4 separate regions of the Homo sapiens genome follow, and all the other regions are linked to region 3. The links come from fine-mapping of genetic effects on gene expression. A gene starts in region 3. Each other region holds a variant in brackets. All regions are shown on one strand. Distances are between the middles of the regions. Region 1 overlaps GALNT2 (polypeptide N-acetylgalactosaminyltransferase 2). Region 2 overlaps GALNT2 (polypeptide N-acetylgalactosaminyltransferase 2). Region 3 holds the start of GALNT2 (polypeptide N-acetylgalactosaminyltransferase 2). Region 4 has its middle 140 kb from the start of PGBD5.

Evidence for each region. PIP is the estimated chance that this variant, and not a neighbour inherited with it, causes the effect. A credible set is the group of variants that fine-mapping cannot tell apart.
Region 1: its variant is the best candidate, but not a certain one, in a credible set for the expression of GALNT2 in whole blood (INTERVAL, PIP 0.82).
Region 2: its variant is the best candidate, but not a certain one, in a credible set for the expression of GALNT2 in whole blood (TOPMed, PIP 0.58).
Region 4: its variant is the best candidate, but not a certain one, in a credible set for the expression of GALNT2 in whole blood (INTERVAL, PIP 0.51).

The regions. Positions count from the first base shown.
Region 1 is chr1:230,275,301-230,282,309 of GRCh38, forward strand. It overlaps GALNT2 (polypeptide N-acetylgalactosaminyltransferase 2), which reads left to right. Exons shown (of 16, transcript NM_004481.5): 16 at 4,003-6,822. The coding sequence ends at 4,158. Among named protein-coding and RNA genes, the nearest start is that of PGBD5, 150 kb to the right of the region's middle. RefSeq lists an enhancer at 7,000-7,009. The variant G/T (reference allele first, on the strand shown) is at 4,878.
Region 2 is chr1:230,258,602-230,266,081 of GRCh38, forward strand. It overlaps GALNT2 (polypeptide N-acetylgalactosaminyltransferase 2), which reads left to right. Exons shown (of 16, transcript NM_004481.5): 12 at 3,972-4,064; 13 at 4,321-4,404; 14 at 6,640-6,766. LOC124904542 reads right to left here. Exons shown (of 5, transcript XR_007066928.1): 4 at 877-1,162; 5 at 56-486. Among named protein-coding and RNA genes, the nearest start is that of PGBD5, 160 kb to the right of the region's middle. RefSeq lists enhancers at 6,515-7,015, 7,016-7,480. The variant C/T (reference allele first, on the strand shown) is at 3,820.
Region 3 is chr1:230,063,566-230,071,045 of GRCh38, forward strand. It overlaps GALNT2 (polypeptide N-acetylgalactosaminyltransferase 2), which reads left to right and starts at 3,673. Exons shown (of 16, transcript NM_004481.5): 1 at 3,673-3,841. The coding sequence starts at 3,716. RefSeq lists enhancers at 2,889-3,048, 5,403-5,482 and silencers at 3,179-3,988, 4,429-4,488.
Region 4 is chr1:230,283,159-230,290,638 of GRCh38, forward strand. No RefSeq gene overlaps it. Among named protein-coding and RNA genes, the nearest start is that of PGBD5, 140 kb to the right of the region's middle. RefSeq lists enhancers at 3,291-3,790, 4,975-5,474. The variant G/A (reference allele first, on the strand shown) is at 2,288.

The sequences.
Region 1 (7,009 bases), 210 kb after region 3:
CATATATAAACGCCACATATATATACACACCACATATGTATACATATATATACATGCCACATATACATCTATAAACACCACATGTATACACGCCACATATATACATATGTAAACACCACATATATACACACCACATATATATACACGCCACATATATACATATATACAAACACCACATATATATACATATACACACACACACCACAGATACATACATATATATACATGCCACATAGATATACATATATAAACGCCACATATATATACATATAAACACACCATATATATACATATAGATACATGCTACATTTATATAAACACCACATATATATACGCCACATAGATATACAAGCACAACATATATACATGCCACATGTATACATATGTAAACACCACATATATATACACACCACATATACACACCACATATATATATACAAACACCACATATATATACATATATACATACACCACAGATATATACATATATATACATGCCACATATATATACAAATATACATGCCACATATATACATGTATATACATGCCACATAGATATACATATATAAATGCCACAGATATATACATATATAAACACCACATATATACATAGACACCACAGATACATACATATATACATGCCACATATATATACGTATATATACATGCCACATATATATACGTATATATACATGCCACATATATATACGTATATATACATGCCACATATATATACGTATATACATGCCACATATATATACGTATATATACATGCCACATATATATACATATATAAACACATATATACATATATAGACACCACAGATATATACATATATATACACACCACATATATATACATATATACACACACACACATATACACACAGTTTCTTTAAACATTTCAGAATAGACTTTCTACCTGCCTTGTAAGCCGGTTTTCTCTGACGTATTCCCTTGTGGCAGCTTGTGGACACACCCTTTCTCAAGGCATGGGGTAACAGTTAGTGTCAGGAATAGAAATGCAAGCACAAAAGGTCCTCCCTGTATGCCCATACTTGGAGTGCCTGCCCCTGTTCTTACAGTCGGTCCTTAGAGATAGATGGGATGTAGGGAAACTGAGGCACAGAACCTACTGGAGCCAAGAGCCTAAGCCAGCTTCTAGTCTAACCCTGATTTCACAACAGAAAAGTCTCAGAAAGTCATTGCCTCCACCCTGGAGTCATCTGGGAAGACCAAGGCCAGGACCGAGTCCCCGGTTCTGACCCCAGTTGTCAGGGAGACGCCTGCAGAGGGCCCTCTTTCACCTGTCTGTCTCCAAACCCCTGCGCCAGCTCTGGGTGCTCCTCCTTCCCTGCTCTGCAGAGTCCCAGCCTGTCCTGGCAGTGGGAGCCCCTCTCTAGGGTTCTGCTCACAATCCGCATCTCTAAATGTCCATCTGTGTTGATGACTTGATACCAAAATGTGTAAGGGAGTGCCTGTTAAACAAGAGAAGGCTAGCACCGCTTGGACCCAAACCACCTAGAAATTGCCTCACTCATTGGCCCCTCGAGAGGAAGCTCCTCGAGGGCAAGGCTGGCATCTGCTGAGCCAAGTACTGGGTGAGTCTCAAACACATTCCCCTGGGATGTAACGGAGCAGAGATGTCTTTGGATGTAATGGATTGATAAAGTGATGACTTTAGTTGACACCTTTTTAAAAAACAAATATTACTTCAATATTGCTTAATTTCAAGAATTGACAGGTGTTTCTGCTTCAGTCCCAGTTTTGGGGAACCATAACTGACACGGCTTAGGACCTTTGTGAAGCATGAAAAGACCTATAAATAATAAGTTTTTCTGGATGTATGGCATGTATAAATGGGGATCTGTTAGGTTTTAAACCCCAAGACTCAGGCTATTAGAGAGGATGTGGGGGCTGTTTCAGTAGAGTCTGACTGCCTTGAAAATCTGCGCTCCCCACCCCCAACCACAATCCCATCAGACAGACAGATCAGAGCCCACAAGGCCACCTGTGCGAGACGGAGCTGGGGTTTTGTTGTTGTTTTTCTAAGGTTCTTGATTTAGCTGATGCTTTGACACATGACAGGCAGTCCCTCCAGTGGCCAGAATCAGATTCCGTTCATTCCGAATTCTTTGTTGAGAAGATTCCTGGCTGCTCAGAGTAACAGGGCAGCCTCAATACATACACACTTTACATGACAATGGGGAAAAACAGCATGAGGGGTGATTGACAGCAACGAGGGAGCTGGAAATGAAAGAGGCAATGACAGGCACTTAGCAAAAGCCTCCCCGGCTCCTCTGATTGCACTGTCTTTCCCTGCTGGCAAGAACTCCAGGTGAGCAGGTGGACGGAAATAAGGAAAGCAGGGTACAAGTGACAACATCCTTGTGGTGTTTCGCGCAGGTCGGGTCCCCAGCACTGGGCTCCTCTGCCTGCACCGGCTCCTCCCTGCCTCACTCACTGGCCCCTCAAGAGGAAGCTCCTTAGCAAATTTTATCTTGGAACTGAACTGGCTTTGCCAGTTGGAACATTTGGTTTCCAGGCACGTCCATGTTTTCATATGTTGTGCATATTTGCAGAGTCAAAGGGGAAAGGGAGGCAGGAGTGAGAAAATTTAATTCTGCAATGTCAAAAGGATTTGCAAAAAATACTTAGGTGAAGGAGCTTTCGTGCACACAGTATAAAAAATTAATTAGAACCACAGACTTCATTATTTGAAACGAGCTTTGGGGAAGAAAAAAATGTTACTTTTTTTTTTTAAGAACAAACATTAGAGATTTTTAAAGGGGGATTTTTCTGTTTTTCTTTCTTTTTTTTTTTTTTTTTAAGAGACAGGATCTCACTCTGTTGCTTAAGACTGGAGTGCAGGGGTGGGTATGACCATAGCTCACTGCAGCCTCGAACTCCTGTGCCCAAGCGATCCTCCCACCTCAGCCTGCAAGGAGCTAGGACAACAGGCATGCACCACCATGCCCTGCTAATTTTTTTTAAAAAAAATGTTTGTAGAGATGGGTTCTTGCTATGTTGCCCAGGCTGGTCTTGAACTCCTGGCCTCAAGCGATCTTCCTGCCTCGGCCTCCCAAAGTGCTGGGATTAGTGTCGTGAGCCGCCTGCACTCAGGCTGAAAGGGGTATTTATGTTACTTGCTAAACAGGGCTCCTCAGATTTCCTTCAGGCTGGGTTGTGCACTTTGATTCTGGCTTAGTTGGTGGGTAACGGGTATGTGGGTTGAGTTTGGTTGTTCGCTTGATTTGAGTGTTAGTAAAGAGGCATCGTACCCTGTACTTTACAAGCGGCATGTTCAGAACTCAGCAAACATTGGTCCCTGCCATACAGAGCACCAGGGGGCTCAAGGGTAGCAGAGACAAGTTTCTCATATCCACCAAGGAGCTTGCACACCAGTAGAGAACAGACTACATAGAAATAGGCTTCTCAATGCTATGTTCTGTTCAAACAACCATCTCTCTTCCTGACATTTGGCCTGACACCGTTCCTCTGGCTCCCCCGAGCAGAAAGCCCTAAGTGGGAGCATGGAGGTGCCCAGACCAAGGCCTCCAGGCAGGGCTGCTTTCCAACAGCCAGGGGAGGATCTGGCCCTGCATTGTGTGGATCCCTTCTTGGGGTGAACCATCACTGGATCAAGCTTTCATACGAAGGCATGCAAATTCCCCTACATCAAATCCTGTGTTAATGACGAAGGGGTGGGTGCCCAGAGCTCTGGGGCTCAGAGGAGGGGACACCCACAGAAAGTTTGGGGCAGGAGACGTTCTGAGTTTTGATCCAAGGCAGAGAATATGTTTCCTTCCTGGGTCCCAGCAGCACCTGTGGCTGGTTTCCTGTGGGGCTGCTGCAAGCTCCTCGGCCGTTCAGATGAGAGGCTGGGAAAAACGTGTCTATCTGTGAGTTTTTAATGCAGCCACAAGGTCCTGAATTCACACGAATCTGTTTGTACTCCTTTGCTTGTGCCCACACTCTAAGGCACTCTCCTGTGTCTTGCAGAAATGGGAACAGATCGAGGGCAACTCCAAGCTGAGGCACGTGGGCAGCAACCTGTGCCTGGACAGTCGCACGGCCAAGAGCGGGGGCCTAAGCGTGGAGGTGTGTGGCCCGGCCCTTTCGCAGCAGTGGAAGTTCACGCTCAACCTGCAGCAGTAGGAGGGTCCGGGAGGCCCTGCCGTCCTGTCTCCTGCACCATTGGGTGGAGTCTGGTGATCACATTATTGATTATGTTTCTTAAACTTTCCGCGAAACTAATATACCTCAGTATTCCATCATGGTCTGAAAGTCAAACTTCGGCAAGGCACGGACGACTGTGCAGACACAGCAGCGGCAAGAAGCGAGAACTGCCCTCCCCCTCCTCTCGGTGCAGCCCAGCCGGGCCCCCTTCCCCAGGCCGGAGCGCCCCTCTTCCTTCCAGCTTTCACTTCTGCCGGCTCCGCAACTGAGTGACACCCAGCGACAACCGACTGGGGAGTGGTAGAAGCAACTGAACGGATGCGTGCGAGCTGAGGACAGGGCGGGAGGAGGGGGCACACATGCCCCAGGGGAGCGAGGAGAACTCTTGAAATCTCCATTTTCAATCCCTTCGAAATCACGTATGGTTTCCACAAAGCCGAGTCGTGTCACGTGGCAGGTTTACGTCAATAGTCCCTCTCTCTGCTCCTCCATTCGCAAGTGTCTTCCTGGGCCAGACTCCCCTCCACCTCATGTACTTGCTATATTGAGGATGAAGTTTTCTATGGTGGGACACTAAATATAAAGCTATATAGAGAAAGAATGTACGGTCAGTTCCCTATGGTTTCTGTAGATCATCGTCATCTTGTATATTCCCCACAAAGCCGTTCGCAGCTTCCGGGAGAAGGGGCCAGAGCCCG[G/T]TGGGGCCAGTTTCTCACAGAGGGAGGAGGTGGCCTTTGTCCCCTGGAGCCCGATCAGCCAGTTGGTGCTACTGCTGTGGCCAGCTGGGGGGCTTCCTCCAGACCACCGGCCTCGGCCCCGGCATCCCTGTTGGGCGTCAGCCTGAGAGTCCCTACTGTGCGTCAGAATCCACCTTGCGTGCTGTGCGTATCTGTGAACCTGGAGCGGTTACTTATTTTGACAGATATCACTTTGGGTCTTTTTACATTAAATTTCTTTTCTCTAAGGAATATAAGACATACCCCATAGCTCTGTGTGAGCCAGCAATACCGCTGCCCCCTGGCGACAGGGCAGACCAATGATGCCAGGCAGCTGTCACACGCTAGTATTGGCTTCATTGTGATCTGAGCCCTGCACGCTGGGCCTTCAGAATTAATGGCCAGCAGTGTCAGGGATGAGCCCGTCAGCCAGGGCACAGGCCTGGCTCACAGTCCTGCACACCTGCTGGCCTGGGGAGCTCCAGCCAGGCAGCGAGTCCTGCCCCGCCCGCAGCTCCCTCCCACACCCCGCCTGGCCAAGATGACTGCTTCAGGGGGCTTTGGGGAAAGAATTAGGAAGGGTCAGAACCAAACAATACCTGCTCATTTACACTGAGGATTCAGGGCGGGAGACAGGAGCCTTGGGGTCCTGTTAAACCACAGACAGTTATGAACTGAAAGTCATAACGGGGAGAGGTGCCTGGCTTCTACCTGGGTGCTCAGGAATGTTCCTCGTCACCCCTGCCACTCTGTGGTCGGTGCCCTGCTTCCTCCTCCACTCCTGGCCGCCTTCTCCAGCGCCGCACACACAGATGCTCAGTCTCAGAGAGGCTGGCACGGCCTGGCAGTCTGAGAAAAGCGTCAGTTAGGCACACCTGCAGGCCCCTCGGTGGGACAGCGGCGGCCTTGGAGTTAGGAGCCACCCTGGGAGGTTGTGCCGGTGCCATGCTCCTCCCTGTGTCTTGTATGAAAGGGGCCACTGTGTGTCTTCCTCCCCGGCGGGAGCCCCACATGTGTGCACTGTAGGACAGCGGCCCCGAGGTGGAAGCCTGGCTGGAGGGCTGCCCTATAGGTCTTCTCTTCCCGCCTCCCCTGCCATGCAACCAGATGTGTTGTGAGTGGGCAGCGTGCCCCCACGCTGGAGTAACTCCGCACGCTTCTGTCTTTCACGGTGGGCGCTCGGGGGGAGCCTGAGGAAAACCCCCTTAGGTACCTGTGCGAGGCTGTGGAGTGCAGGCCAGAGCAGGGTGTGCGTAGCCCCCAGCACCCAGGTTCTTCTGTCAGACCCTGTGACCTGCGAGCTGCTACTACTGTAAGGAGGGAAATGGATGAATCTGGCTCGTTTTAAAATCACGTTTTCTGACGAATCCTTTGCCCCTTCACCTTTACCCCGCCCGCACCCCTAGGCCCTCTCAGCCTTCCTATCATCCCACGTGTCTACCCAGACCCTTGTGCGGCCCATGCCCTGGGGGCGGCGTCCTGTCCCTGAGCTGGGAGGCGGCTTTGGATGGTCCGGGCGTCAAGAGCAGGGGTGGGCCGGGGAGGGGTCCTTTGCGGTGAGCTATGTTTACATGACACAGTGTGCCAAAGTGACTTACTGCGGTTGCGTTAGTTTTTAATCATCAGGACTATCTCACCCTCCCACTCCTGTTTTTAAAACTCAGAATTCTTTCCTAAGAGCCCTTCGAGCAAAGCGTGCCGAAGTTAGTTGTCTTCTCTGTGCTGGTCCTTTCTTATGTCCTCATAAAAGCTCAGATGATGGTATCTGTGAGTATGTTTTGCAAATTCAAAATATAGTTTGGTAATTTTTTTTTCCAGTTGATTTTTAAAAAGAACTGCTGTACAGAGCTTGTACTTTGTCCATTTTATAGATGGAAACCATCCTTGAAAATTGTTTAACTTAAATAAAGAGAAGATACTTTCTAGATACCGCTCTTTGCTGGCCAGAGTCTGTCCTGGTGTGTGAGGGCTGGGTGGGGTGGGTGTGGGGACTGGGATTGGGGTCAGCCTTCTGCAGCTCCTGCTCAGTGGCTGTTTCTTATCACCTTTTGCAGATGCGCTTTTATTGCTGTGCCCTTTGGTTGGTTATTCTTACTTGTAATAATAATCATTAT
Region 2 (7,480 bases), 200 kb after region 3:
GATTTCTGAGAAAACTTTAATAGAAGGCAAAATAACAAGTAATGCTTCTGACCAAATTATCTTCTCTCAAAAACTATGTTTCTTCACAAATGTTGAAACTTCATTTTTGTTCTTTATTAAAACAAAAATGTGATCTTGTACAATAAGCTTTACAAAATCAAACAAAAATATGGATATATGTGCTTTTTCCTGGGGCAGCATGAGATTCTTTATATAGACATATCAGACGCCCCACACCAAAGCCATTGATACCTACCAGCAAACAGTGAGATTTCAGAAAACAGTATGTTAAAGTACTCAAGACATTGCACTCTTTGTTAGAAGAGAAACATTTTCAAATTGTATTTCACAGCCCAGGAGCCTGTATTCTCAAGATTTGGAAAAGAAGCTGATCCAGGGTTTCATTATTTTGGGGCAGCATGGATCTGATTAAAAAGCCCTGCTGTTGACCTTCAGCCAGGTTGCTCTTTACCTCAGTTGACTCATCTGAAAGATAAAGAAGTGGAATTATATCACTGTATTTCTGAGGTCTCTTTCCAGCTGCAGTTTCTCTTAATCTCCTATACAGGTTGAATATCTTTTATCCAAAATGCTTGAGACAAGAAATATTTTGGATTTTTGACTTTTTCAGGATATGGAATATTTATATGTACTACCTAATGAGATATCTTGGGGCTGGGACCTAAGTCAAAGTACAAAATTTGTTTGTTTTATATAGACCTTATACACATAGCCTGAAGTTAATTTAATACAATACTTTTCATAATTTTCTGCATGAAACAAAGTTTGTGTACATTAAACCATCAGAAAGCAAAGGCGTCACTGTGACCGCCCACTGGATTCACCTTGCCCGCTGCCCAGATGGAGCTGACTTACCAAGATGGGAATTGCAATAGAGAAAGAGTTTAGTTCACACAGAGCTGGCTAAGTGGGAGACTGGAATTTTATTACTTAAGTCAATCTCCCCCAAAATTCAGAGGCTAGGGTTTTTCAAGGATAATCTGGAGGGAGCTGGGGACTAGGGAGTGGGTGCTGCTGATTGGATGAGGTGCAATCATAGGGGTGTGGAAAATGGTCCTTGTGCCTGCCGAGTCTGCTTCTGCATGGATGGGTCCACAGGACAAGCTGGAGATCTGGATGGAGTCATCAGAAGTGCAGAAGCCTGAAAAGACATTACAAAAGGCCAATCTTACGTTCTGCAATGGTGATGTTATCTGCAGGAGTAATTGGGGAAGTTGCAAATCTGTGGCTGATTTGTTAGTCCAACAAAGGCAGTCTGGTACCCAGACAAAAAGAGGGTTTGTTTGGGGAAAGGGCTGTTACCATCTTTGTTTTAAAGTTAAACTATAAACTAAGTTTCTCCCAAAGTTAGTTCTGCCTATGCCCAGGAGTGAACAAGGGCAGTTTAGACGTTAGAAGTTAGATGGAGTCAGTCAGGTCAGATGCCTTAAACTGTCAATTTTGTCATTGTTAAATTTTTTGCAAAGGCAGTTTCGTCACTATCTCATGTTGGTGCTCAAAAAGTTTTGGATGTTAGGACATTTTGGATTAGGGATGCCCAACTTGTAATAGATGACATTTAATATTTATTTAATACTTATTTAATACTACCTAAATACTTGCAAATACCTGCAAAAACAAGGAGGGCCTGGACAAAAGTGAGTCTCCCTCGGTGCCACTGTATCTGCAGCACTGAGACTGTTTGGTGTAGATACCAAATAAATACCTGAGTGAACCAATAAATAAATGAATAAAAGGAGCTAGCACTGAGTAGCACATGGAGATCATTCCTTGGGGCTGCCTAGTTATCCTTTTCTATTACAAAGACAGAAAAGAGTTGCTTTGCGTTTAGGAATTTTTAAGTGATTTAGTCACTTAAAAACTTGAGTGATTTGAAAACAGTATGACTGGAGTTGATAAAACCTTTAAATCATTAAGGCTGAAAGGAACCTAGGACATTCTGGAATCAAATCCTTTCATGTCCCTGTTGGGGAAATCCAGGTGCCAGATGTTACAAGTATTTAAGTTAATAACTGGTTAAAAACTGACTAGGCATAGGTTAAGGCATAGGTCACTTAGCAAAACCCCACTAACAATGTTTAGTGGCTCTTCTGAGAAATGATATGTATGATCCAGTATCCCCCAGCACTTTAAGTACTCATTGTTGTATCTGTATATTTTTTAATAGAGAGAAAGTAAAAATTCATCAGTCTCATCACCAAACCAGTTGTGCCATAACACTCTCATAATTTGATGAATTCGTCTGTCAGTATCTATTTCTGTCTCTCTCTCTTGTTTGCTCACTGGCTCTCCTTCTGCCTCTACACACATATCCACTATATGCAATTCTGCAAACTATTTTATTTTCCCACAAGTCCAGGACATCATTTCTGTCAACATGTAAGATGCACACTCATGTTTTTAGTGGTCACAGAATATTTCATTTGATTCCTTCCTCATATTTAGTCATAAAGTTTCTCTTTTTTTTTTTTTTTTTTGCTATTATAAACAAAGCAGAAGTGAGCATATTTTCACATGTATATTTCATTCCTAATTGATTGCTGCCTTGAGATAAATTTCTAGAAGTAGAGCTGCTGGGTCAGAGAATAGGTGCATTCATATGTTCTTATCTGTGTTGAATGGCATTATGGATAATAGTCCATATTCTACTTACTAAAATGAAAAAGTATATATATCACCTTATATGAAAGATATAGGCCCCATACAGAAATTATTTTAATAATGGTATCTCAGATCAGTTGAAAGTTTCGCCATTTTAAGGAATTATTTTAAAAGGCGAGCATTACCTCCTTACTGTATTTATTTTGGAAGAACACAGTGCCTTCCTATGGGGTTCTTAAGGAGGGCTAGCTATAGCCTGAAGTGGGAGTCCACCTTATAGCCGAGACCAGAATATGGGAGCAAAGAGGTTAGCTGTGTGCTTGCTACTTCATGGATGCTTTAAGATAATTCTTGGCAGAATACACTGCTGATACCTATGCAGATGATAGCTTTTAATGCATGTCAGACATTCAAGAGTAGCTTGTCCCAGGGGCTTTATTTATGGCAAATCATGGTTCTCTCTATGAGATTTAAGTACATGGTTTTCTTTCCTTCTAGAAAAGCCGGCTGGGCGCGGTGGCTCACGCCTGTAATCCCAGCACTTTGGGAAGCTGAGGCGAGTGGATCACAAGGTCAAGAGATCGAGACCATCCTGGCTAATGTGGTGAAACCGTCTCTACTAAAATTACACAAAAATTTTAGCTGGGTGTGGTGGTACATGCCTATAGTCCCAGCTGCTCAGGAAGCTCAGGCAGGAGAATCGCTTGAACCCGGGAGGCGGAGGTTTCAGTGAGCCGAGATCTCGCCACTGCACTCCAGCTTGGCAGCAGAGCGAGACTCCATCAAAAAAAAAAAAAGCTAGTGCAAACATGGCAGTCTTTCAGCTTAGCCCCGCAGAAAAGAAAGTGATTTTCCCAGGAACTCTTATCTTATGTAGTCTGAACTTTAATGCAGAGCTGTCTGATAGTGTCGTAGCCGTGACGGAGAAGGCCGTGGGGCCTGGAATCTCCTTGCTGTGCTCTGTGGCCCCGGCCCTCTGTGGACGCGTAATGTGAGAGTTTTTAAAGAGTAACTTTCTTTTGTCCTTCTTTAAGATATAGACCCCAGTCCCTCCTTTAAAATATTGGCTCGTGCTGTAATTTCCACTTTGCCTTTTGCCCTTTGACCATCTGTGTGACAAGAAAGCCATTCCAATGGTTCAGTAAGCACCCGCTGAGGCTGGCTCCCCACAGGTCCAGCTCGAGGTGCTGGTGGGGA[C/T]AGCCCACCCTCTGCTGTGTGCCGTGATCCCAGCTGGAGCTGCTGCACACCCAGAGGGAGCCGCCTCAGTCACACGCCAGCAGACAGGTGCAAATGGAGTGATGCAGACAGAAAGAAAGGAAATCACACCTCAAGATTTATTTTCTTTCTAGAAACACCCGCCGGGCAGCAGAGGTCTGGATGGATGAATACAAAAATTTCTATTATGCAGCAGTGCCTTCTGCTAGAAACGTTCCTTATGGAAAGTAAGTGGCAGTTCTGCCTTCTCACAATTACTGGGGATTCTTGGGGTGTGGGGGTGGGAGGTAAGGGGCTGCCCCCAGCGTTGAATTCAGCTACCCAGGTGCCAAGGCGGGAAGGGGTTGTGGGCACAGGAGCATGGGCAGTCCACACCACACCACCTGCCCCAACCCTGTTCTCCTCAGCAGATTTTCAAGTTTGATGTAGAAAGCCCATCTATTCTTAAAATTTATAAAGGAATCTTATTTCCCTCTTCTCCAGTATTCAGAGCAGATTGGAGCTTAGGAAGAAACTCAGCTGCAAGCCTTTCAAATGGTACCTTGAAAATGTCTATCCAGAGTTAAGGTAAGTCCCCAGGGATCTGGGGTTTCACTTTGTAAGGGCTTAGAAGCCAGTAAGGCCATAGAAGCAGCAGAGGGGAAATGGAGGTGGGGCTGCAGGCATGAGATTGGGCACCTGGGCCCCAGTGAGAGCCTGTGGTCTCACTCCATGGTGTGGAGCTGAGAATCTGCTCCCAAGTTGGCCTGCTGCTGTCTCTGTCCTGCAGAGCTGCCCTCCCATGCTTCGGAGTCCCAGAGGCAGTCCCCCGGGCCTCACCTTGTTTTTGGCTTGTTCTCCATTGGCAAGGTGATGGGCTGGGTGACCTGAAGGACTGGTGTCTGACAGGCTCTTCGAGTGACCAGGAGCAGTCCCCAGCCTCCGCAAGCATGCAGTGTCTGCAGCCAGCCCTCGATCCCCCCGCCAGGCGCCTTTGCATGCCTCCGATCTGCTGCGCTCACCCTTGCTGCTCCTGTGGGCCAGCAGATAACAGCCCCCACGAGGCTCCCTCCTCCCAGCTAGGTTAATCACATGTGAAACGGAAGTAATAATGCTGCTGCCCCACGTCCCTCCGGAGGATTCATGGCAGAAACACCTTTCTGAGCATTATTTCCACACCCAGCCTCTTGTTTTAAGCGAATACGAGCTCCCCATCTGGAGGGACCTGCTGATAACCTCGTGAGAAGACCTATAGATCCGCTGGGGTGGAGGAGCCATCTGCACTTCATCTTCTTAAAGGGACTGTCAGGCAGGTCGTGCCTTAATGCGGCACATTCCTTATTCTAAATATTCCCAGAGCATTTTACAGCGGCTCACATATCTCCAGCACAGTGCCTGCGAACGCAAGACTTGCCACCATTATCTTTCCGCTAACAGCTCCTTCAGAGCCCTTGTCACGGAGATTTGTTGGACAGTTAGGTAATGCGGCCTCTCTCTGTTGCTCCTGTTCGCTCACTTGGCTCTTTGGAACCGTTTCCTCTGCTTTTCAAGTAACATGCCAGGCGCCAGGTGGCCCATGCCCCCTAGGAGGAGAACAGGAGAGAACACAGCGTCCTTCTCCCTCGGATCCCTGCCGTGCAGGACAGCTTTTGCTGGGGATTGAGAGCACCAGATGGTCACCAGCGATGGTCACCTGCAGCGGCAAGGGTGCACTGGTCACAGTTGCTGGTTGCAGGGCCCTGGTCTTCTTCCTGCCAGCTCTGTCCTCTCGGCCATGTGCACTCAACCCAAAAGAACCCATTCTGCCTCTGTGTCTGGCCCCAGAATATGATGTCTACACCTCCTGCCTGGTGTCCCTATACAACAGATTCTTGACTGTGGGCACTAAGGCGGCTGCTCATCAACTCTCCGTCAGCCAAAGAGGGGCTTCAATTCAGTGGATTTTAACCCAACCATGCCACTCACTTTGCTTTTTCAGTCACAGTTGACTGCCATTTCTCACAGAGGTCACCCATGGTTTGTAGTGACACTGGGCCCCGCACCCACTGAAGACCACATCTGAGGCACTGAGCACCATCCTGGCTGGCAAATCTGCTTCCCCTGTCTGTGGGGGGTGAGGGAGACATCAGCCTCGTGTTTTGTGTCTGTAATATCACCGCCGTTTACTGAGTGCCTCCTACGAGCCAGGCACTGGGCCGTGTGCTTTACACGAAATGTTCTATGTAACACTTGCAGCAGATCTGGGTAGCCCATAGCCTACCAAAGGGCAAATCGAGCTTCAGAGAAAGTGAGTCTTGCCTGAAAGCCAGCACCTGGCAGAGGTGGGCTGAGGTTTGGATCTGGTTCTGAAGCACGTTGTTCTTCCCCGTGGCTGTGGCTTTGTTCACATTAGACCACCTGACAAGTCTGCCCACCTTTCCCGTCTTTACTGGATAAAGGTCAGATCCTAAGTGTATTGGAAAGTTCAAGGCAACAGGATCTGACCACATTGATTTTCTAAATGACTTCCAATAAGACTAACATTGAAGAGTATCAGGAGCTTTTCCTTCCTTTCCAAAAAAAAAAAAAAAAAAAAATGACCTGATATAGAATATAAAGAATACTTCTGCAACATACAGTCTTAAAGTGTTGGAAGTCCAGAGCCTGGGAGAAATGCCGTGTCCCTGACACACACTACCTGTGGTAGGAAGAGGCACGATGCCTAGTCACTGGGTCTTTCTCTCGTTCCTGTCACCTGTCATGAGGCCACTGAGCAAAGGGGCTGGTGGACGGGAGCTGGTGGTCATGTGCAGTGAAGCAGGTGATTCTCACGTTGTTTTTCAGGGTTCCAGACCATCAGGATATAGCTTTTGGGGCCTTGCAGCAGGGAACTAACTGCCTCGACACTTTGGGACACTTTGCTGATGGTGTGGTTGGAGTTTATGAATGTCACAATGCTGGGGGAAACCAGGTATGTGCATGGGGAAGCCAGGTCACCTGCAGGCCCAGAGAGAGCAGGAGTTGGGGGGGTCCTGATGTTAGAAGTCCCAGCTGCCACCTTTCTCCTGGGATGGGTGATGTCTATGAGGAAGCACCTGGCTCCTGCTGGCCACAGCCTCTTTGGCAGCCAGCACCAGGGCCAGATAGAATGTCACACACTTTGGTGCATCAGCTCTGTCATCAGCTTCGGACCAGGCTCTGCTGCAGCGGCAAGGGTGCACTGGTCACAGTTGCTGGTTGCAGGGCCCTGGTCTTCCTGCCAGCTCTGTCCTCTCGGCCATGTGCACTCAACCGCAAAGCACCCATTCTGCCTCTGCGTCTGGCCCCAGAATATGATGTCTACACCTCCTGCCTGGTATGCCTATACAACAGATTCTTAACTGTGGGCACTAAGGCGGCTGCTAGTTATAGCCCCTGCCTGTTAGATAATAGCTTAAGATAGAAGATACTCAGTATTAATTGCTTCCATTGCACACATACACACCTTTTCTGAGAGGCATAAAAATGCACAACCGCCAGGCGCCGTGGCGCACGCCTGTAATCCCAACACTTTGGGAGGCTGTGGTGGGTGGATCACCTAAGGTCAGGAGTTCAAGACCAGCCTGGCCGACATGGTGAAACCCATCTCTGCTAAAAATAAAAAAAAAATTAGCCAAGCGTGGTGGCGGGCACCTGTAATCCCAGC
Region 3 (7,480 bases):
CCTGCCCCATGTACAATGGAAAGACTTCCATAACCTTTTTTCTTCTACCTCTAACATTGTCTAAAGTTTAATCTCTATCATACATCGCTTATTCCATCAAACTAATAATGATTTTACTTTGCAGATCAAATCCTAATGATATACAATTGATAAGTGTTTAGGAAGGGAAGTTTTGGGCTATAAATTGTCCCTCTTCATCTCATTTAATGCTTTTTGGCCTACTCTGTTTTGTTTGATATCAGAATCACAGCACCTGCTTTTTCAGAGTTGGGGTTTCCGTTATGCCTACATTTGAAAATCTTTTATTTTAAAGGGTGAACTGAGCCCACTTATAAATTGTTATATCTGATGTGGGTTGGTCTCAGCTGTGTCATATTGTTTCCTATTATAACTACTGCATCACTGTGCCACACTTACTGTGTTTCTTTCATTATTTGGTATGTATTCTTTGCTATTTTTAGAACTTTTGGGGTTTTGGAATAGGGTTTCCAATATTTGGGAATACATATATTTTGTTGTAGTGATTTTTATTTATATTTTTAATATATTACCCTTAATTCCTATATTTTGTTTCTAACCTTTTAACATCTGGTCTGTCTGTTTTATATGGTATCCTTTCACTACTACCTGCTACTGATATTGCAGACAATGATATTATTCTATTTTCCCTTCGCTCTTCCCCTTCTCCTCCAGTTGTCTTTAGTTGCACCTGTTCTAAGTTTATCAGAAAGTATAATGTATATACACTAGTCTTTCACCTTCTGAATATACAAAATGCTCTCCATTAGTCACTCTGCTGGCTTCCTCAGCTGTCTCTTGGTTGGAGGAAGCTCATTCTCTAAGATTCCTCATGAAAGGCCCATGTGAGTCACGTTCTCTGAATTTTTGCATTCAGGTCATATCTGTTTGCCTACAACCTTGACACTTGAGGGCTGGGTATAAAAATCACTGCCTGGTACTTTTTTGTGTGTGTGTCATGGAGTCTCGCTCTGTCACCCAGGCTGGAGTGCAATGGCATGATCTCAGCTCACTGCAACCTCTGCCTCCCGGGTTCAAATGATTCTTCCACCTCAGCCTCTCGAGTAGCTGCGATTACAGGCACCTGCCGGCTAAGTTTCATATTTTTTTTAGTGATGGGGTTTCACCACTTTGGCCAGGCTGGTCTTGAACTCCTGACCTCAGGTGATCCACCCACTCTGGCCTCCCAAAGTGCTGGGATTACAGGCATGAGCCACTATGCCCAGCCTGCCTGGCACTTTTGTTCCTTGTTAATGCTGCTCCACTGTTGCCTGGCTTTGCATGTTGCTGTTCAGAAGTCTGATGCCAGCATAAATTTTTATCTCTATAAGCAATTTGATCTTTTTTGCCTTTAAAATCTAATCGTTTTACTAAAATATATTTAGGAGTTGATAATTCCAGATCATTTCCCAAGGTACATGGAAGTCACTTTTGACATGTACATTTAAATTTTCCCTTATTCCTGGATTATTTTCTGGGGTTATAGTTTTAATATTAATTAGGTTTTATTGTTTAATGTTTGTACTTTAGGGACTCCACTTAACATGTATTTTGGTCTTCCTTTCCTGGCTTTTATTTTAACCTCTTCTCTCTGAACCTTTTTACTTCTATCTTTATATTATTTTCAATTTCTTGATTGTTTTCTTGCCATTCTTCAGTGTCCTTTTACATATTTTCATTTGAATATATTTTCCCTTGGACACCTTGTAATTATTCTTTGTTTCTGGGATAGTTTTTGTCATTACTTTCAATTTCCTTCTTGAATTTGCTCAACCCTTGTTGCATTTCTTCCTAATTTTTGTCTAGTCTGTCTTCAGTTCTTGAAATTTCTTATCCTAGATATGTGTGTGTGTGTGTATGTGTATACAAATACGTGACACTTTGTTCAGTTTGACATGTGGTATTACAATTTTCTTATGCTTCATGGTTTTTATTGTGGGGGTTTTCATCAGCGAAAATGTTATGATTTATTTTTTATCATCAGAAATGTGATTTCTGTTTTCTTTTTGCAGAATCTTTAAATGCAGTTGATTTGATGTTTTTCTGTTACTAGGCATTTTGAGGCAGGGTTCCCGGTTCAAGAGTGTTTTCTTTTATCTGTGTACTGAAATGCAGTTTTTAATAGATAATGTTGGTGTTTGGGGAGGGGACTGGCTGTCTTCTCTTTCATTTCTGCAGGATTTGTAATTTTCCCTTCTGACTTCCTTCTTTCCCTTCATTGTCAGGCCTCTGAAGGACATTATCTTCTTTTCGTATTTATCTGACTTTTTCCCAGAAACAAGGCTCCTTCAAGCCTCTCACCTCTTGTCCCATTTTCTTTCAAATCTCTTCCCTTGATCAATAAGGCACCTGACCTCTGTTCAGTTTTTAGTTCTTGGTGTTGGACTTTCTATTTATAAAGAGGTGACAACCCTGTACTTCACTTAAGTCCTTGGCAATAGTGGAGGGAGCTCAGTTGGAATTTGGTATCTTTTCTTTCTTCTACTTAAGTAATTTAATGTTCAGTTCATGGCATTCTCTCTAAGTAATGCTGAAGGCTTGTTTTTGTTTCGTTGAGGATATGGGTACGGACTTATATCAGGCAGCTGCCATTATCCTCTGACCGAGAAGCTCCTGAAAACATTTAATATATCAAGTTCTAAGTAAAATTTCTGTCTTTCTTAGGAACACTGGAAGCTTTGCGTGTTGCAAGGGCATCACCAAGGTTACATAGATTATGTTACAAGACAGATCGTTTTCTTGTATCGTTAAAGATGCTTAATGTGCTTTTTAAAGAACGCAACGAATGAGAAAGAAAAGATTTTAAACAATATATTATTGCTTTCCTTCTTCCTCATTTTGTGTTTATTGAAAAGAACAACTCTACCATTGATAGCTCTGTCACCCACAGAAAAATGTTCTTTTGAAAATTACCTTCTCAGTTCCTACCAACTCAAAACCTCCACATCTGCCTATATAGATAAATAAAATCGATACCAGCGGGTCAGGAATGTTTTGCTGCAAGATTAGTGAGAAAACTGCAGCAAGCAGCAGCAAAGTCGGGTTCAAGCGGGCGGTTTGCACCAAAAACTCAGGTCAGTTGGCCAATAAGAGCAAGCCCGTTAAGGGTCTGAGGTGGCCCCAAAGACCAAGGCTGAAGAGGTGACAGTCTGGGCAGGAAGCACCGAGGCCACTACCGCCCCCGTAATCGAGAGGCCCCGTGTGCGTGAGCAAGGCTCTTTGCCCACGTGTGCGCGCGCTCCAGTCGGGTCCCGGGGCAGCCACCTGTCACTCACGGGGGAGGGGGCGGCCGGCGGGGGGAGCACGCTGAGGGGCGGGCGGCCGGGGGCGGGGCGGCGCCCAGGCCCTCACGGCGGAGCCCGGCGTGCTGCAGCCATGGAGACGCGGCAGTCCCCTCCCGCGGCCCGCGCCCCGGCCCCCGCAGCCGCCGCCGATTGGTCGCCCTTTGCTCCCTGACCCCCCTCGCCGCCTCCGAGGCCGCTGCTTCCTGCTCTGGTGCCGCGCGGCGCCGCCGGCCCGGGGCGGAGCTCGGGCGCCGAGTGCGCGCCGCCGCCGAGCAGTAGCACCGCGCGGGAGGAGGAGCCGCCGCCGCGCCCTTCCCCTTCCTCCGCTCCTCCCCCGGCCCCCACCGCGCCCGCGGCCGGCCCAGGCAGCACTCGCGAGCAGCGGCGGCCCCGCCGGCGGCCGAGTTGGGAGAATGCGGCGGCGCTCGCGGATGCTGCTCTGCTTCGCCTTCCTGTGGGTGCTGGGCATCGCCTACTACATGTACTCGGGGGGCGGCTCTGCGCTGGCCGGGGGCGCGGGCGGCGGCGCCGGCAGGAAGGTGAGTGGAGCGCCCTGCCGCGGCCGGGCCCCTGCGCCCACCCCCCACCCTGCGCCCCTGTCCCCTGCCCTCTCCGCGCCGCCCCTGCGCTCCTCCGCCCGGACCTCCGCTCGCGTCGCCCGCCCTCGTCCCGGGCCTCCGCGCCGAGTGCCCAGGGCAGGGGTGCACCCGGCCCCTCTGCGCACGCCGGGCTCCGAAAGGGCGGCCCCCGCAGCCTTTCTCTGCCCCCTCTCGTGGACGTCGCCCCTCTCTCTGCTCGTCGTAATTCGAGTCTTGTCCGGCCGCCGGGAGCCCCATCCCCTGCGGTTGGAAGTTTAGGGATGGGGGTGTTGGGAAACACAAAGGGGGTGGGGAGGAGAGGAGAGAGAGGCGACCGCTTTTCCAACGCGTCATGTACAGCAGGAGAGAGGAGTCCAAGTTTCTTTTCAGCCCTTTGATACCAGCGGCTGCAAATCCTCGTCCCTTTCCCCCTGTCACTCCGCGGGGCGTGGGTTCCGTGTTTCTGCCACCTTCTTTGCCCTTTACCTTTGGGGGGCAGGGGCGGCCGCTCCCGTGCCAAGTAAAGCCCCAGGGCCCGTGCGAGCCAGGGGCCAGTGCGCCCCTGCGCCCCGAGCGAGGCCAGTCCCGGCCGTTCCCTTGCGGCCCCAGCGTTACCCTCTGCCCAACCCGGCCCCCGGCCCTCCCGCGCGAGCCGGACGTGGCCTCCTGCGCTTGCATTTTCCATCCCCACTCCCCGCTTCAGGGAGAATCCCTCTTCTGTGGCTGTGTTTTTAACATGCTCCAGGGGCCGAGTGATCTGGCTGTGGGGACCGTGTGAGCCGCTCTGCGGTTCCGCGTCCTCGTGCCGCCGCTCCGGACGGCCGGGCCCTGGGCATTCGGGAGGATGGTGAGCGCCGAGAGGAGCCGGGACAGCGCGGTCCTGCGGCCGAGCGCCGGCCGGGAGAGCAGGGCGTCGGGCTGTGTGCTGGAGCATGCCGGCAGGGGACGTTTGTAGTGTTTTACTGGCTCCTCGGCTTTGAAAGCAGCGTTATCTTTTCCGAATTCCTGTAACCCTCGTTACTGTGACATTTAGTGTCACCGCAAACCCAGAAAATTCTGAGTTAATGGAGATGGACTACGGGTGGTTGGGTTGGAACAAGAGAGTGGTATCCTGAAACAAGCCAGAGGGAACTAACTAGATGAACAGACTTCAGTTCTGAAGTCAGACCCCTAAATGTCCACGCCGGGGTTTGGCTGCTTCAGAGGTTTTTTCTTTGCTTCATTCATTCATTCATAGCCGAAGATGTTAGGTGGAATGGGTGCCTTATGTGGTTTCTGGTAAATTACGTGGATTTGTTTTATCTAGAAGGGCAGAAATAAAGCCCTCTTTCCACGTGCTGAATCGGCCTAGCTTCTGAGCTGACATTGTACTCTTAGCGTTGTTTTTGTAAAAAATGGTATAGGTAGTATATGTACGCGAAGACTTGGTTTATTCTTGAACAGCAAAGAGCATGCAGGCAGCAAAAGCCGTGCAGTCCATTCAGAGATATAATCGTGTAAAACTGGAATGATTTTTAAAACTTTGCTTCCCGGTAAACTGTGCCTTGGCCACTCTGCATAGCCTGGTGTGCTGGTGAGACCTGGCAAAGCTTTCTGCCTTTCATGCAAAGAAAACCAAACACATAAGCCACCCTTGGCGTTTCTCTTTCCTTAGTCTGCCACTTTCATTAGTACACGTGATTAGAAAGAGCAAGCGTGCTCGTTCGCCTCCCGGAGGCTGATTCCTCACTCTGGTGGGCTTCAGTTCCTGGATGGTGTGAGGGGTCTTCCATGCAGAAGTCTTCAGACACTCCTGAAGTGTGTGATTCTTAGTTTGTTTTTTTTTGTTTTGTTTTGTTTTGTTTTGTTTTTTTTAAAGAATTCCTGGTGGCAATATAGACAGGTACGGAGACCAGGTAGAAAAAGTGGGGGAAATGAACAATTAATTACACATGGATTGGTGATTTGGGATTCTATTCTTTCTGTCAACGAACCATAAAATTTAATGCTACCCCTTAGGATGCTTTAGTGATTTGTCGGTTGAGGAAGAGGTGTGTAAATGCAATAGCTTTTGAAATTGCAGTGGAAGACTCATTAACTTCGTGTGGTGGACCCAGGGTTAAAGAGAAGCCTTAAGATGGTTTCTGAAGGAGGTAAATAGAGCCCTGCTGTCACGAATGCCTGATGTATAGGAAAATCGTGTAGTCTTCTTTCTTCCCCAATTGTTTCCATGGATTTAGACACTAGAAGTGTCTCTAAATTTATTTCATTCTCATACCAAAAAAAAAATGTGGTTTGTTTGGCTTGTAAAGTATGGACATAAAAAAAGATAGCGGGCCATGCACAGAAAGGCAGAATTTAAAAGCTAGCTATAGTTTTTTTAGAGATAAGTGGACCTATATTTTTTCTCTTGCCTCATACTGTTCAAGTCAGGGCTTTTATTCCATATTTAGCCAGTTTCTGCACATCCTGACGTTTTTCATAGGGTACTAGGCTGCAGTATTGGGCTTTAGGGATCGTCTGAGGGGAGTCCAACTAGGATTTCTGCTGCTTCAGCAGCCCAGCCCAGGCTTGTCATTGTGTGCCCTGCCTGTTAAGTAACTCATCACAGAACTGTTATTCTCCACTTGGCAAAACCCAGAGAGCCAGCTCACCTCAGATTGCAGGTTTAGTAAACTAAGCAGGAGGGAGTGCTGAAGACCAATCTCAGGCACTGCCGCACAACTCGGGACTCAACACCCAGGCTCAGGACATGTATGTTAAAGCAGTTTATTCAAAATATTGTTTAAAATTATGTTTCATTTACATTTGTGTCCATACCCTTTCCCCCCATATTTTGCTCTTTCCCCCTAAATTGATGATTTGCACTTCAAGCGTGCCTTTCCTTTGAGCTTCTTAAATGCTTTAAAATTTTAACCATGTTAAGTCTCCCCTGGGCTTTGGTACGTTGGCAGTGGATGGAGCCGCAGAAGAGAGGAAGGGATTTCTCTGGAAATGAAGCTGCCTGTGGGTGAAGTGTGGCTGTTTAGGGTGGAAAGGGAAGGGTTTTCTCTCTGCTGTAAGAGTGTGTGGAGCCTGAGACCCCTTGCCTGTGTGCCTGCATGCTGGGAGGTAAGGGACGGTGTTAGTTGAGGGACATGATCCGGAGCCCTGGGAGCCTGTCCACTTTGCACAGTAGCATCACCCTTATTCCCTGAGCTGGCACGAGTCCTGTGGCCCTTGCCCGAGAGTCCAAGGGTGGGGGACTTTGGGTGGGATCTTCTAGGAATCATGCGGGGAGGCGGGCAGGTTATTTCTTGGAACAGTGAAGGACCTTGCCGGGCTAGACCATGGTACACATGGAGGGGAACGTTAGGGTGTAAAGTTGGAGAAATTCAGAACTAAATTGTAACGGGCTTCAAATGCCAAGCTGAACCATTTGGGAACTAGTAATGTTTTTGAGCTAGTAGTAGACATTAAAGGGAAATGGCACAAATCCACTTATTGGCATTGAGTGAGACCTAGCTGTTTACCTCTTTGTGCTTAGTGACCTTCACTGATGCATTGAACCTCTCTGACCCTCAGTTTCCTCATCTTTGCAGTGGGAGTAATCATTCTTACCTCATGGCCTTGTTCGGAGAG
Region 4 (7,480 bases), 220 kb after region 3:
AGGCTGGAGCGCAGTGGTGCAATCTTGGCTCACTGCAACCTCTGTCTCCTGGGTTCAAGTGATTCTCCTGCCTCAGCCTCCCGAGTAGCTGGGATTACAGGCCCCCACCACCACACCCGGCTACTTTTTTGTATTTTTAGTAGAGACGAGGTCTCACCATGTTGCCCAGGCTGGTCTCAAACTCCTGACCTGAAGTGATCCACCCGCCTCGGCCTCCCAAAGTACTGGGATTACAGGCATGAGCCACCGCACCTGGCCCAAATTATTTAGCAATTTTGATTGACATTGGGGTGAAGTAGGAGGTTGGCCACTGGCAGGACTGGCCCAAATGAGTGTCTGAAACCTTCTAGAGACCACATGTAATCCATTTTCTTTCCCTATTATTTGGGACACCAAAAATTTGCTGCCATCTGAGAAGACTAAAGGAACTCTCAGCATCGTTTTGTAGCACCCACTGGAGCCCCTTAGGGATCCCGTGTGTGGTGCCTGCTCTGGCAACAGGGAGAGGTTTATTTATTCGGTAACTATTTGTTGAAAACCTGTGTTGTGCTGATAGTCCCAAAGAAGACCCAGGCTGAGGAGGAAACACGTTAAATGGTGACAAATAGGACAAGCCAAATGCAGGCTCTCGGCCTGGCGGGTGCTGCACCCTTGTTGGAGCCGTGTCTCAAAGGTTCTGTGGGATTCGGACTTGGCGAGGGAGAGCGTTGCCGGCAGGGGCTCAGCGTCTGAGAAGTCCCATCACCAGGACATAGCAGCAAGATCCCCTGATGGGGACAGCCTGGGAGGAAGAGGACAGACTGGCAGGCGGGCCCGTGTGTGAGCATTGTGAATGCTGGGGAAGGCTGTGGGGGTGGGGAATGACAGGAGTTCCTGACTGGAGCAGAGAGGGTCAGACTTGCAACGCTTTTCAGAATGAAATATCCAACCCAACTCAGTGATTGGATTCTGCGGTATAACTTCACATTGTCAAGAATATTCAACCAGAAAAATAAAATGCCTCTGACACACTCTTCTGTTCATGGACTTACCTACAGAAGAGAAGAAAAAACTCTCTTCTCAGCAGTTCTTGCCTATTTCTCAGCAATCTCCTAATACAATTGCTGTATTTGATTTTATGCATTGTTTGTGCCTGCAAATAACATACATCCTGTTTCCAAAAGCTGTCGTCTCCCCTAGGGTTCCAAAGAGGAGTGTTCGCTTAGCAGTTTCTGCCTGAGCTCCTGGGGTCCCAGGCTAGGGTGGTCTGGACAGGGGCTACAGAGAAGACCTTTTGGTCCTCAGCCCAGGTGACACCCACGGGTGAGTCAGATTTGAACCAGACTCTGGATGCAATTATAAGGAGCATTGTAGAGCAGTAGCCATGATTTCCTCTTCAGGAATAAAGACCCAGTCTCAACAAGGTGCCAGCCTCCTGAAGGGCGTGGAAAGAACCCTTGCGCGGCACCGAAGCCACTGATTCACATTCGCTGCGGAGTTTCCCTGAGACTGTCCTTCTTGCTCTCAAGTTGGCAGAATTGTCTATTGGAGAGCTTCCATAAAAAGCCCACCTAAATGGAGGCGAGATTAAAAGAGATGTTGTCTTGTATAACAAGAAATCCAAAGGTGATGGGATTCCACGTTGATCCTGGGGCTTGACATTGCTGTGGACAAACTGCTCCCTATCCGAGCGCCCCTCCCCTCCATCCCCTCCCACCGTGGTTCATTTAGTACAGTGGGTGCTCGGGTCTCCGTCTGTTCACGTTGCTGTAAAGGAATATTGGAAACGGTAGGTTATTTGGCTCATGGTTCTGCAGGTCGTACGAGGAGCATGGCTCCAGCGTCTGCTTCTGGGGAGGCCTCAGGAAGCTTCCACTGGTGGTGGAAGGCAGAGGGGAGCAGGCATGGCATGGCGAGGGGGGCGGGAGGAGCCAGGCTCTTTTCAACAATCAGTTCTCACTCACTCCTGTGATAATGGCACCAAGCCATTCAGGAGGAACCCACCCCCACAGTCCAAACACTTCCACCACGCCTCACCTCCAACATTGAGGGTCAGAGTTCAACATGAGACTTGAAGTGGACAAACGTCTAACATTTATCACTGAACAGACCTGGAGCGTGCTGCCTCCTGTGCATCTTTGTTTTTTGACTTAGGGAAGATGCACCTTTGCCAGTGACCACCCCACCCCTTAGTCTCCCCACCCCTTAGTCTCCCCACCTCTTAGACTCCCCACCCCTTAGACTCCCCACCTCTTAGTCTTCCCGGGTCGCACTGCCCAGAGCCGGGTCCTTGGGAAGCCGGGAAGCA[G/A]TCACCTCCCACCTCCTCCCATGTCATGGAAGTGGGTTTTGCTGGCAAGGAGGACAGGGAAGGGATGACTACTCATTGAGCAGCCCAGTGCCCACCACACTTGCCATCACTGGAAGAATTCTGGCAGCAGCAGATGGACAGGGGTGGCAGCGTGGTCTCAGGATTCCTTCATCCTAAGAGAGGCAGTCGCAGACCCTGTTGAGCCCCTTCACCCTGTTGATGCCATGGACTCCTTTGGCGTGAGCCATCAACTCAGGGCCTCCTCTCAGAAGGTGTTCAAATGAATAAAACACATTGATTACATGGGATTATAAAGAAGTCTAATTATGCCAAGACACAGTTATCAAAATATTTTCCTAATATGTGCTTCTTAATGCATTAAATAACAAGTCTTCCTGTCTAATTGCTGCCATAATTTAAAGTAGTGATGAGCATAAACAATGTTTTGAAAAAGCTACAATAATTAATGTGATGAAAATATCTGTGATTTTTTAATTAGTGACAAAGTTCCTATTTTGTTGTCGACATTCGTTGTAGAGTGTTCCATTTCAGTTGGAGGTTGTGAAAATAACAATATCATTTTTCCCATCTAAGTTGCTGGACCCCCTAAATTCTAAGCATCTCCATGTCGGTGAGATGCATGGTCCCCACTGTCCTGGAGCCTCCGTGACTTTGTCATCTCCCTGCTGCAGGGTCAAAGGGGTGTTCTCCAGCGCCCAGGCAGCTGCCCAGAGCTCTAATCCTGATTCCAAGAGCAAAAACGGGAACAGACCGCCCTTGAGGACAGGCGCTGCTGGAGCCAAGAGACTCACAGTCGGTCACCTGATTTGCATTTATATTGAGAAATCACAGCTGGAGGGTACCCTGGCAGATGGGTGAGGCTGAGCCACTCAGGCTCTAGGGAAGCCACGCTGTCCTCACAGTGCCCACCCATTGATCTGTGACACGTGGGCCAAGGGGCGTGGGATTTTGCTGGTCAGCTTCTCTCCCTATTGAAGCCGCATGGGAAGGAAGTGGGCAGAAGACTGCTCGGCAAGCAAGGAGCCAGAGTACTGAATGCAAGGACCTTCACAAAGTGCCTCTTGAGGTGGAAAGACGGAGGCGTTTCTGCGCCGCTGCGTGGCCTCAGCCACGAAACTGTCATTCGGAGACTGCTTGGCCTGGACTCCAGCTCAGGATATGCAGAGTGGGTGCTGCCTGATGCCTCATCTGGGCCTGCCAGGTCTGCGGCAGGAGGGCGGGTAGGATGGGAAGGAGCCCATCCTGGGACAGAGCATGTAAATGCATAGCCACCACTGTCGGGTGCCACACAGGAGTGAAGTCCAGGAGTGAAAAGAAACACTTGAGGGAAAGGAAGAGGGGCGAACAGAGGAGGTGGCACTGGGTGCGGCTTCTCAGGCCCTGGAATGGGTGTCCCACCCTTCAAATAACCTCTCATCTCTACACAAAGACGTTACCCCATTTTACCCCTGGGGAAACTGAGGCTCTGATCAGCTAAGTCATTTGCCTAATTTACCCACACAGTGCCAAGTTAAGCACCCAGGCTGTGACTGTCCTCTTCCTGGTCCGGTGGGGACACGGGGACAGGAGGTGATGGGAAGTGAAATGGGCCTTTGGTCGTAGCCAGGGGAGGGGCAGTGACTCCCGTTGCTAACAGGGAAAGCTGGAGTCGCCTCCGCCCGCCGGCTCATGAGGGCTGGAGGGGAGGAGTCAGGAGACTCAGGGGTGGGAGAGATGGGCTCCACCGCTGCATCCTGCCACCCACCACCTGTGTCACCATGGGATGTCACTGAGCCTGCTCTGTGAAATGGGAACCCTTCTGTTCACCCTGGAAAATCATTGTCAAGATCAGAGAGGAAGCACGAAAAGTGCCTCCTGGCCATGCAGTGGCTCCACCTGCAATCCCAGCACTTGAGGAGGCCAAGGCAGGAGGATTGCTTGAGTCCAGGAGTCTGAGACCAGCCTGGGCAACATAGTGAGACTCCCATCTCTACAAAATAATAATAATAATAAGCTGGGCATGGTGATGCACCCCTGTGGTTGGGCTACTCGGGATGGCTTGAGCCCAGGAGTTTGAGGCTGCAGTGAGCCATAATTGCACCACTGTACTCCAGCCTGGAGCAAGACCCTGTCTCAAAAAAAATTTTTTTTAATTTGCGCTCTGATCTAGGCCAGCCCAGAGCTGCAGCCCCGGCCCATGAGCCTCCCCAGCTTTCCCGGCAGGTCTGTGGGCCGTCCAGAAGGAAAGGGACTGGAGCAGGGGAGCCAATGGGATTTCCACATCTGCCAAGTCTTCAGGGAATGTGGGATGGCACGGGGACCCGGGAAATAAGGGTGGAGGTGTCAGCCCTGCATTTTTACAGCCTAGAAGTGACGTCAGAGACCACCAGAGAGGGGGACGGCAGAGAGAGGGAGGACAGGGGCCTGGAAACACAGATCCACACACAGGCTGGAAAGGACCGAGCAAGACACTGCTGGCTGGGCAGAGGCAGCTGGAAGGAAAGGAAGGAAGGTGCGGGACAAACGAGGCTGCCCCACGGCCCGAGCCAGAGCACAGTGAGCTCTGGGAAGAGGTACCTGGATTTTTGGCAACAAGGAAGTTGGTCCGATGCCAGCAGGTGAGGAGCATCCTCCTCATGTGAGGAACACGGGGCTGGAGCAGGGGAGGACAGGGTGTGTGGCCACTGGTTCAGGTGGGGATGTCTGGGACGGACCTGAGAAGCTGAGGCTGATGGGACAGCGAGGGGACAGAGAACTCTCCGGAAACTTCTGGCTCCGGGGCAGAGGGCCGAGCTAAGGGGTGGCATGGGTAGCCACTGTTTCCCTCCCACTCCCCCAGCCCCCTGCACTGGGGATTTTGAGGCTGTCTGCACTTCATATGTTTGAGAGAAACCCACGATTGTAGAGCTGAAGATGTAGAATTTGGCCCGCAGGTAACTGCACACCAACCAGGACCAGCCCTGCTCATGAGCTTCACTGCGGCACCCATTTCATCACACAAGGGGCCAACCAGAGGCCAATTCAGGAGATGTCAATGTCTGTGTGCCTCCACCCCAAAATTCATAGATTGAAATCCTAACCCCCAAGGCAATGATATTAGGAGGTGGGGTCTTAGGGAGGTGGGCAGGTCATGAGGATGGCCCTGATCCAGTCTGACTGCTGTGCTTATAAGAGATGATGACACAGACCCACACAAAGGGGCGGCCACGTGTGGACGCAGGGAGAAGACAGCCGTCCCACGCCATGGAGAGGCTTCAGGAGCAACCAACCCTGCAGACACCTTGATCCTGGACTTCCGGCATCCGGGGCTGTGCGTTGTGCAAGCCCCCCCGAGCCTGCACTGTTTTGTTCTGGCAGCTCCAAGCTGACTCATACAAGCCCAGAGCCCTCGCAATTCCCACACGCCACATGCATGGCTCAGCTGCACCTCCTGCCAGCTCCAAACCTCACGGCACAGGGTACACACTTGTGTGTCCATATGGTCAGCTTTCAGCACTGGACAGGGCTTCTAAGGTCCCATCCCATGACATGCTCCCCTCACCTGGGTCCTCCTTCCGACACTCCCAACATGTGTTCTGGCATCAGCTGGGGGGCCATGCTTGTGCTGGGAGCTTAGAAGATGAGAGCTAATGTTCACTGGGCACCTGCCATGCTCCAGAAATGATGCCAGCTTCTCATTCAGGGCTCACTTCCACCTTTCAACAGACGGACCAAGTAGGACTTAGAAAGCTTAAGGCATATGTGAGTCATGTCAGAACAGGAATTTGAACCCAGCTCTCAAACTTCAAAGCCCTGTTCTTTGTATGACACTTGTGCTTCTCAAACCTTGCTGCATATTCCAATTACCTTGGGAGTGAAACAACAACAATGCAATCCTGCAGTCCCTGGAGCTAAGGTCAGCTGTGTTTGCAAAGCTCCCCAGAGGCTCAGAAAGTACAGCTGGGTTGGAAACCAAACCAGCGCTTCCCCAACCTCAGTGCACAGCAGAGTCTCCAGGAGAGCTTGTTAAAACCGAGTCCCGGGGCCCAGTCCCCAAGTTCCTGATTCGGCAGGACTGGGGTGGGATTTGAGAATTCATATTTCTTCTCTTTCTTTTCTACTCCTTCTTCTTCTCCTTCTTCATTTTTTTTTCTTTCTTTCTTTCTTTTTGAGATGGAGTTTCCCTCTTGTCCAGGCTGGAGTGCAGTGGTGTGATCTCGGCTCACTGCAACCTCTGCCGCCTAGGTTCAAGTGATTCTCATGCCTCAGCCTCCAGAGTAGCTGGGATTATAGGCACCCACCACCATGCCCAGCTAATTTTTGTATTTTAGTAGAGATGGGGTTTCACCATGTTAGCCAGGCTGGTCTCGAACTCCTGACCACAGGTGATCCATCCGCCTCGGCCTCCCAAAGTGCTGGGATTACAGGCATGAGCCACCATGCCTGCCCTCATCTTCATTTTTTTTTAGAGACAGAGTCACCCACACTGGAATGCAGTGGTGTCAATCATAGCTCACTCCAGCCTTGAACTCCCAGGCTTGAGCAATCTACCCACCTCAGCCTCCCGGGTAGCTTGGGACTACAGGCACACAACACCATGCCTGGCTAATTTTTTGTATTTATTGTAGACACTGGGTTTCACTATGTTGCCCAGGGTGGTCTCAAACTCCTAGTCTCAAGTAATCACCCACCTTGGCCTCCCAAAGTGTTGGGATTACAGGCATGAGCCACTGTGCCTGGTGGAAGTTTATAGTTCTAATGACTCCTAGGTGATGCTGATGCTGCTGGCCTGGGAACCACACTTTGAGGAGGCACAAGGCACTTAGTTCAGGCCGTGGCTAGTTTAGACAATAGGGATTGCCCACACTTCATACCAAAGGGTTATTACTGAGTTGCATGGCGGCCTGGAGAAGCGGTAGTGGGTAGGGCTCAGGTTGTGGTTCTGGGGCCGGACTGCTTGGTTCATGGCCTCAGGTCCGCTATTCCTGTGCCCTTGGATGCTTCATGGCTCGGATGTGGACCCTGTTACATGACCTCAGTCTCACCATCTCCGTTCTCTGTGCTCAGCTTCCTCCTCAGTTAAATGGGGAAATGAAATTCACAAAGTTGGCCGGGCGCGGTGGCTCACGCCTGTAATCCCAGCACTTTGGGAGGCCGAGGCGGGTGGATCACGAAGTCAGGAGATCGAGACCATCCTGGCTAACACGGTGAAAC